Homo sapiens: one gene and its partner. The protein of the gene in region 1 interacts with the protein of each later gene in a pairwise test. Each region holds a gene or a part of one and is shown on either strand. Other genes may lie near its edges.

Region 1 (3,932 bases):
CCCCTCCCCCAGGACGTGTCACCCACCCTCGGCACCCGGCTACCCCTCCCCCAGGACGTGTCACCCACCCTCGGCACCCGGCTACCCCTCCCCCAGGACGTGTCACCCACCCTCGGCACCCGGCTACCCCTCCCCCAGGACGTGTCACCCACCCTCGGCACCCGGCTACCCCTCCCCCAGGACGTGTCACCCACCCTCGGCACCCGGCTACCCCTCCCCCAGGACGTGTCACCCACCCTCGGCACCCGGCTACCCCTCCCCCAGGACGTGTCACCCACCCTCGGCACCCGGCTACCCCTCCCCCAGGACGTGTCACCCACCCTCAGCACCCGGCTACCCCTACCCCAGGACGTGTCACCACCCTCGGCACCCGGCTACCCCTCTCCCAGGATGTGTCATCCACCCTCGGCACCCGGCTACCCCTCCCCCAGGACGTGTCACTCACCCTCGGCACCCGCCGACTGCCCCGGACTTCTCCCCTCTCATGGGTGCTACCCCAGTCCAGGCCTCTGTCCGTCACCTGCCCTGGGCCAGCCTCCCCAGCCTTGGCCTGGAACACTTCCCAGACATCCCGGGAAGCCTCCCGTGCCTCCTGTCCCTGTGCCCACCACACCCTGTGTCAGCCCTGCCATGAGCTCCCTGTGTCCATGCCCTACACAGCCCTCACCGGTGTCTGCTGTGTGAATGAACTCGAAGGAATGAACCCCGCCCTGGGCCTCAGTCCACACACCCAAACAAGGGAGGCTGGAGGGCGTGGTCTCCTGTGGCCCCCCAAGGGGCCCAGCTGAAGCAGGTCCACCCCGTGACCCAGCCTCACAGGGCCTGGTCCGGGCCCCAGGGCTGAAGGGTGTTTGTGATGGTTCCAAGCCCCGTCCACCTCCCGACCGGCGCTGGCAGCCCCTGCCCGGCCCCAGCCTGTCCATCTCACGGCTGGTGGCCTCTTCCAGGTCTGCAAATGCTGGGCTCACAGCTGAACGAGTTAACAAGAGACGCAATGTTGGTGGAGATGGCACCTCCCGGGTCCCCGATGCTGCCTGGAATTCCCAATACCTGACCCCCACAGCCCAGGAGACGGACAGCTGTCTGACAGACAACTGGAATTCCCGACACCTGACCCCCACAGCCCAGGACTAGGGCTCCCGTCCTGCTTCCAGTTTTCTGCTGGACTCGGCCCAGGGCACAGGAGAGTGGGGCCTAGAGACATGTGTGACCTACCCAAGGTCATGCTGGAGCAAAAAAGAGCTGGGATTCAGACCCTTGAGCTGAGCCGAGGGCCCTGTGGACAGCCCTGTTTTAGGAGAGACCCCACCTGGCTCTGGCCCCTGGAGTCAGTCCCCAGCTGTCACGGAAGCCTGAGGTACCTCCTGTCCCTGAGGCAGACCTGAGGAGGGAGAGTTCTAGCACCCCCTTCTCCCCGCAGGGCTCTCCTCCTGCAGCCTGGCTCAGGCCTAAGGCAACACCCCCACTCCCCCGGATTCCCCAGCCAGGAGGGAGGGGAGAATTGGCCCAGTCTGTGGGGAGGGCCACATCCACTTGGGCCAGGGCTCTGGGAGCTGCAGGTCCAGGCAGAGGGTGGCACTGGGGTTGCCAGCCTGAGTGCCAGTTGGGGCCACACAGGTACCTCCCCAGGAGGATGTGGCCTCCTGGTCTAAAAGGAACTGGCTCCTGGGCTATGATGACCTAGGGCACAGCCGCGGGGGGCCTCTGCCTCTGGCCCAATCTGGACTCCCCCAGGTGACCCGGGGCCCAGGTGGACTGAGCAAGGTCCCTCCTGGGAAAGGCAGGACCCGTCAGGGGCCATGTCCCAGGCCCCATGGCAGAGCCCCTCTCAGGGTCCTATGTCGGGCAGCCCTCCCCTTCCCTGAGGCTGGGGCCAGCTGTTGAGGGGCTGATGCCTCCCTCACATGGGGGCAGGGGCCCACGACTGCAGGTGCAAAACCGTGGCTCAGTGCCTGGTACGGGGAAAGGCTCTGGATAGTTTGGGGCTCCTGGAGCCCCTCAGAAGCAGGACCCTGGGCCCCAAGGCCACCTTCCCCTGCATTTATGTCCCAGTAGAACATATCCAGTGGGACTCGGGGTTCCGCCTCCCTGCTCTAACCTCTCCCTTGCCCCAAGCCCTGGCTCCCTCCTTCCCGGAGGCCTCAGAGTCCCTCCTGCAGTCTGACTCTAGTCTCTCTTGCTTTGGCACAAGCCCAGTTTCTCCTGCGGAGGAGGGGAATGCACCCGGCCCAAGACCACCCCACCCGGCTTCACAGAGGCCCGTGTGCTCCCTCAGCCTCCACCTGTTAGGACCCCAGGGACCCCAGACTCACGCGGATCACAGGCTGTCTCCACAGCAGCAGGGAGCCACGCTGGGTGCTTGGCCACACAGAGCGCAGGCAGGACACAAGGTGCCCAGGGCCACCACCGCCCTGCCCAAAGTGCCAAGTGCTGCCTCAATGCTGGGATGCCTGAGGCTTAAATAGGACCCTGGGCAAGGGCTCGGCCCTCCTAGCGCCCGCCCCTGCTCACTTGAGTGCGTGCACACACACAGGCTCACACACACGCACGTGGGCTCGCACTCACACACAGGCGCACTCCGTAAACACTCCCCCAGCAAGTGCAGCAGTGAACCTCCCCCTCCCCGTGCCTGTGGGCGGGCACACTGGAGGGCTGTGTGGGCAGACAGCCTGCCGAAGAGCCCTTTTCCCGCTGACACCTGGGCCCCTGGGCCTCCCTCCAGAGCTGGGCCAGGTGGGGAAAGCCACCTCTTTATTCAGCCTGACTACGGAGGCAGGCGCAGAGGACCTGGGCGGGTTGCTGTCCTCATCTGGACTCCTCTGTCCGGGACGGCCCTTCCTGTCCCACAGCCCTCGGTGGCTCCCCAGTGCCCTGGCTCAAGGGCCTCCCGGCCAGCTCAACTCAAGCCTCTGGTTGCTGCCTCTCTGTCTCATTCCTGGTTGGACCTACACTGTCTCCAGCCTCTGAGGCCAACCCTGCCCTGTCCCCTACCCTCCACCCCAGAATGAGTTCTCTGGACCCCCAGACCACACCCAGCCACACCGCCTCAGATCCCAAAGCCCCGAATGTGCTGGCTGCAAGGCCCCTGCACTGTCTGGGCACAGGGTGGGGAGGGGCAGGGGCTGGTTGGTCACCAACAGCAACGGCGCAGCATCGGTGTCACCAACAGCAACGGCGCAGCATCGGTGTCACCAACAGCAACGGCGCAGCATCGGTGTCACCAACAGCAACGGCGCAGCATCGGTGTCACCAACAGCAACGGCGCAGCATCGGTGTCACCAACAGCAACGGCGCAGCATTGGTGTCACCAACAGCAACGGCGCAGCATTGGTGTCACCAACAGCAACGGCGCAGCATTGGTGTCACCAACAGCAACGGCGCAGTATTGGTGTCACCAACAGCAACGGCGCAGTATTGGTATCAGCTGCACTTTGCAGATGAGGACCCCAACTGAGAGCTGAAAGCCCTTCCCTGAGGACCCCAGCAGAGGGGGAAGGGGGCCCACCCGGCCACTGACGCCCCAGGGATGTATCCCCCACCCACCCTCGCTGCAGTCCCCATACAGGCTGCCACCAGGGTGCAGACGGTCCTTACTCGGAGGTACCCAAGGTTCTGACCTCGGTAAGGCCAGTGGGGTTCAGGTCAGCAGAAAGCCAAGAGGCCCTGCCACGTCCTCACAGACCCTGGGAACCCCGTTTGTCTGGGGCCAGGATCTTGGCTGTCCCAGGCGTCCTGCCCCGCGGTGGTTGCAGGGGCCAGGGGAGCAGGGCCCGCAGCAGGTGGGGGCTCCCTGGGGCCCTGGCCAAGGCCTCCAGAGTGCTGGGCCAGGCAGCTGGACACTTGGAACTGTGTCCCCTTGCCCTGCTGGCCCAGACCCAGGGCAGTTTGTTGGGGTGACGTGAAGCCTGGAAGCCCTCAGAGGCTGTGCTTTC
Region 2 (3,600 bases), on another chromosome or scaffold:
GAACTCCCCAGGGGGCCTGGGCCAGGGTCACTCAGGGGCCGAAGAGCCCCAGCTGGAGGGATTTAACACCAAAGGTCAAAGGTCACAGACAGGGAAGGGCGGGCAGGCACAGGGGGTCAGCGCTAATGGCAGCTCCGGAAAGGAGGGGGAGGAGGAAAGGCTAAGAAAAACAGGGTTGCTTCCAAGGGGTCCGCACACCCCCCAAAACACCATCCCAAGTCCCTGGCACTGTCTCCTGCTTGGCTGGCTGCAGACAGGGCCAAGTTGAGCTGGAGGTGGGCAGTGAAATGGGCCAGGCTGGAGCTTGGCAAAGGGTGTCCTGGGAGGGGCCTCCCAGGTGCAGCCCCTCCCCCTGTGCAGGCCAGGCCAGCTAGGAGGCCCAGCCTGGGCTCTGGGGAGAAGGAGAAGCAGAGGGGGAGGTCCGAGGTCACCCGGGATGGGTGTGTGGGCTGGGCCTGGACAGCTGTGGCACTGTGGCACCAGAATGGGGCTTGGGGAGGGGTGACCCAAGGGGCCAGTTTCCCCTCCCCTGAGCCCGGGGGCTGGAAGGCCCTCCGAAGCGCAGTGTCTCTGGGCTTCCTCCCCAGCCGCAGGCTGGCCCCACCTTCCCTCCAGGATGCCAGGACACGCAGGATGGCGGCCTACTACCCAGGGTGCCAGCCTCCAAGAACCATGGCCCAGGCCCTTTCCATGGCCCAGACCAAGCCCAGGCCTTGGCCAGGTCCCCAGCCGGCCTGGCTGCCCCCTCAGTGTCAAGCGTTCCCTCCAGAGCCAAGATCCTGGGCTGTGATGGCTGGGGGCCCAGGGCCCCTCCCAGCATCCCTTCCAGCTTCCCAGGCCCCAGGGCAGGGCTGGGCAACTCCTTGAAACCATTGCTTCCCGGCCACCCTCTGGCCAGGCTGGGCGGGCCCTCCTGGACAGGCAGACAGGCTGCACGCTGCCCTGCTGTGGCCCGAGTACCCTGCTGGGCAGGGCAGCATGCCAAGGCCTCCAGGTGCCAGCCTGGATTCCAGCCCCATCCCAGGGGGCCAGCGGGGAAGCTGTGCGTGCTTCTCCTCCCTCGGGATGCACCTGCCTCGCCCCCTCCTCCACCCGCTCCAGACCCGCCCTCCGGCGAGTATGGACCCCTTGCCATCTCCTCCCTGCCAGGCCGGTCGCCTGCGTCCACCCGGACCGCAGGGGAGTAACAAGTGCCTGACTTGTCCCAAACTCCCAGTCCTGACCCCCCAGGGACGCCCCTTCCCGAGGTCCAAGGAAGGACCCGGGCTTGCGAGGGGCAGCAGGAGGGAGACTCTCCCGGCCAAGGGAGGAGGCACCTTCCAAAGCCCTTCCTAGCAGCAGCCCCGGCGCGGCCGAGAGGAGGGGCGGCTGCCCCGGACAACTTCATGCCCAGGCTCCGGGTACCCCCCTCTCACCTCGCCGCACGCCCCCCACCGCGGCCGCCCAACTTCCCAGCTGAAGTTTGCGCCCGCCCCGGGCCCGGGCGCTGCTCGGCCCGGCCTCCAGACGGAGGGAAGGAAGGAGGGAGAAGAAAGACCGAGAGCTCGAGGGACCCGGCCGGGGAGCCGGCGAGGGAGGGAGCGCGCGAGCCAGCGAGCGAGCGAACGCGGGGGCCTCGGCGAGGGCTCACAATGGCCCGGGGCGCGGACGCGAGCGGGGGAGGAGACCCTCGGGCCCCGCAGCCCCGGCGCGACAGGCGGGCCCCCCCCCCCCCGCCCCGGCCCGGTCCCCACGGCGCGACGCCCGGGGGGCTTCCTACCTCAGCGGCGGGGGCGGTCGGGATCCGGGCTGCGGGCTCCGGCGGTCGGGGGGCGCGGGGAGCCGAGCGGGGGAGGGGCCGGGACGGGCGGGGGCCGGGGCGCGAGGCCTCACGGGGCGCGGGCTCCCCTGGCACGGCCGCCCGGCGCCCGGCCGCTCCGCCACATCTGCAGCTCGGGCAGGGAAGGTGGCCGCGGCGGCCGGGCCGTGCGGGGATGTCTTAGAGGGAGGGCGGGCGGGCGGGAGGAGGGAGGAGGGAGGCGGCGGGAGGAGGGCCCGCCGGCCGCGGAGGAGGGCGAGGAGGAGGGGCGCGGGGGGCGGCCTCCACCCCTCCCCTCGCTCGCTCGCTCCCTCCCTCCCAGCAAAACCCCTCTCACCGCTGCGGCCCCAGGCCCGGGGCGCCAGCTGCCAGGCGGGGCGTGCGCGTCGGGGGAGGGGGCGGCGGGAGCCGGCGCTGGGCCGAGGGAGGGGGAAGGGAGGGCGGCGCGGCCGCGGGGAGCGGGCACCGGGAGGGAGGGGTGAGGGAGGGAAGTGGGGCGCCGAGCCGCGCGCGTCCTCCTCGGCCCCATCCTCACGCCACCCCCCCCCCGCGGCCCCGCCCCCGGCCCGAGGGCAGCGCTAGGACACGGCCGGGAGGTGGCCTGGGGGGGCGGGGGAGCCCGAGACGTCCCGCCCTCGGGGAAGCCCGAGGAGGGGGCCGGGCGCGCGGGCCCAGAGGAAAAGCCCCGCAGACCGGGAAGATGGAGGAGGTCGCGGCGGCGGAGCGGGCGGGGACCCCTCGCCTCCTCCCGCGGGGTCACCTTGGCCAGGCCCCCCTGCGGCCCCGGGCGGCGGGGAAGGCGGCAGGAATGCCTCTCTGCGGGCCCTGATTTCTCCGCCCAGCCCAGTTCCAGGAACGCGCAGGCAGCGCCCGGCGGGCAGAGGTCCCGGATCCCGATGCCGGGCGGCGCAAACCAGTTTTCGGGGCCCGGCGCAACCCCTCACGCTGGTGAGACGGCGGGCGACTCCCTGCCGTGCCCTCGGTCTCAGTTTCCCTCACGGTAGAATAACGACGAGGCCCGATGCCGAGCAATCCGAGCTTCCGCTTGGTTCCTAGCTTGGTCCCAGCATTTGGGACCACCTGCGTCCACTAGCCCGAGCGCCGCGGGAGGTCTAGATCCCTCCTGGACATCAGCACCCTGCGCGGCGCCCGCGGCCAGGGCAGCGAGTGCAGTGAGCGGATACACGCGAGGGAGAAGCCCCGCACCCGGCCCAGCTGTTTTCTGCCTCGTGTTGAACCACAGACTCGCGTTCTTGAGTGTGTTTTGTTTGGGCTAATCCCGTGCCCCCCGCCCTGTTATCTTCTTGCTGCTCTGCTGTATGCTGGCAAATTGTAGTTCAAAAAAACAGCCCTCCTGCTGTTGGACACCCCCTCTTCCCAGCGCAGTTGGCCTTGAGGAGCCTAGGAGACGAAAAAGGCATCCCAGAATCAGCATCCCCTAGAGGTGAGGCATCTGACGCTGGTTTTAAGTCCGTCTTCATTCGTGCATTTGATGCTGCGGTCCCCGCCAGAGCCCGAAGCACGTGGCTCTTGATCACAAGGCATCCATGGCAGGCACAAGGCTTGGCACATAGTAGGTGCTCCTGGGCTGGTGCCCAGATGGACACATAGCAGGTGCTCATGGGTTATGTGGACACACAATCGATGCTCATTGCATTTTAAGAGAATGCACACATAGTAGGTGCTCATGGGCTGGTGCCCAGATGGACACATAGCAGGTGCTCATGGGTTATGTGGACACACAATCGATGCTCATTGCATTTTAAGAGAATGCACACATAGTAGGTGCTCAGGACGTTGTG

What was found. Proteins that work in one complex are often made in the same cells at the same time.
Region 2: the proteins of GPSM1 (region 1) and GLIS2 interact in binary tests that used the Homo sapiens proteins (3 or more experiments, as listed by UniProt).

The regions. Positions count from the first base shown.
Region 1 is NC_000009.12:136,351,536-136,355,467, reverse strand, and holds part of GPSM1 (G-protein-signaling modulator 1), read right to left. Parts: intron 2,433-3,932; exon of another isoform or gene 2,313-2,432; intron 687-2,312; exon of another isoform or gene 446-686; intron 1-445. UniProt on the Homo sapiens protein: Guanine nucleotide dissociation inhibitor (GDI) which functions as a receptor-independent activator of heterotrimeric G-protein signaling.
Region 2 is NC_000016.10:4,314,414-4,318,013, reverse strand, and holds the start of GLIS2 (zinc finger protein GLIS2), read right to left. Parts: upstream 1,948-3,600; 5' UTR 1,760-1,947; intron 1-1,759. UniProt on the Homo sapiens protein: Can act either as a transcriptional repressor or as a transcriptional activator, depending on the cell context. Acts as a repressor of the Hedgehog signaling pathway. Represses the Hedgehog-dependent expression of Wnt4.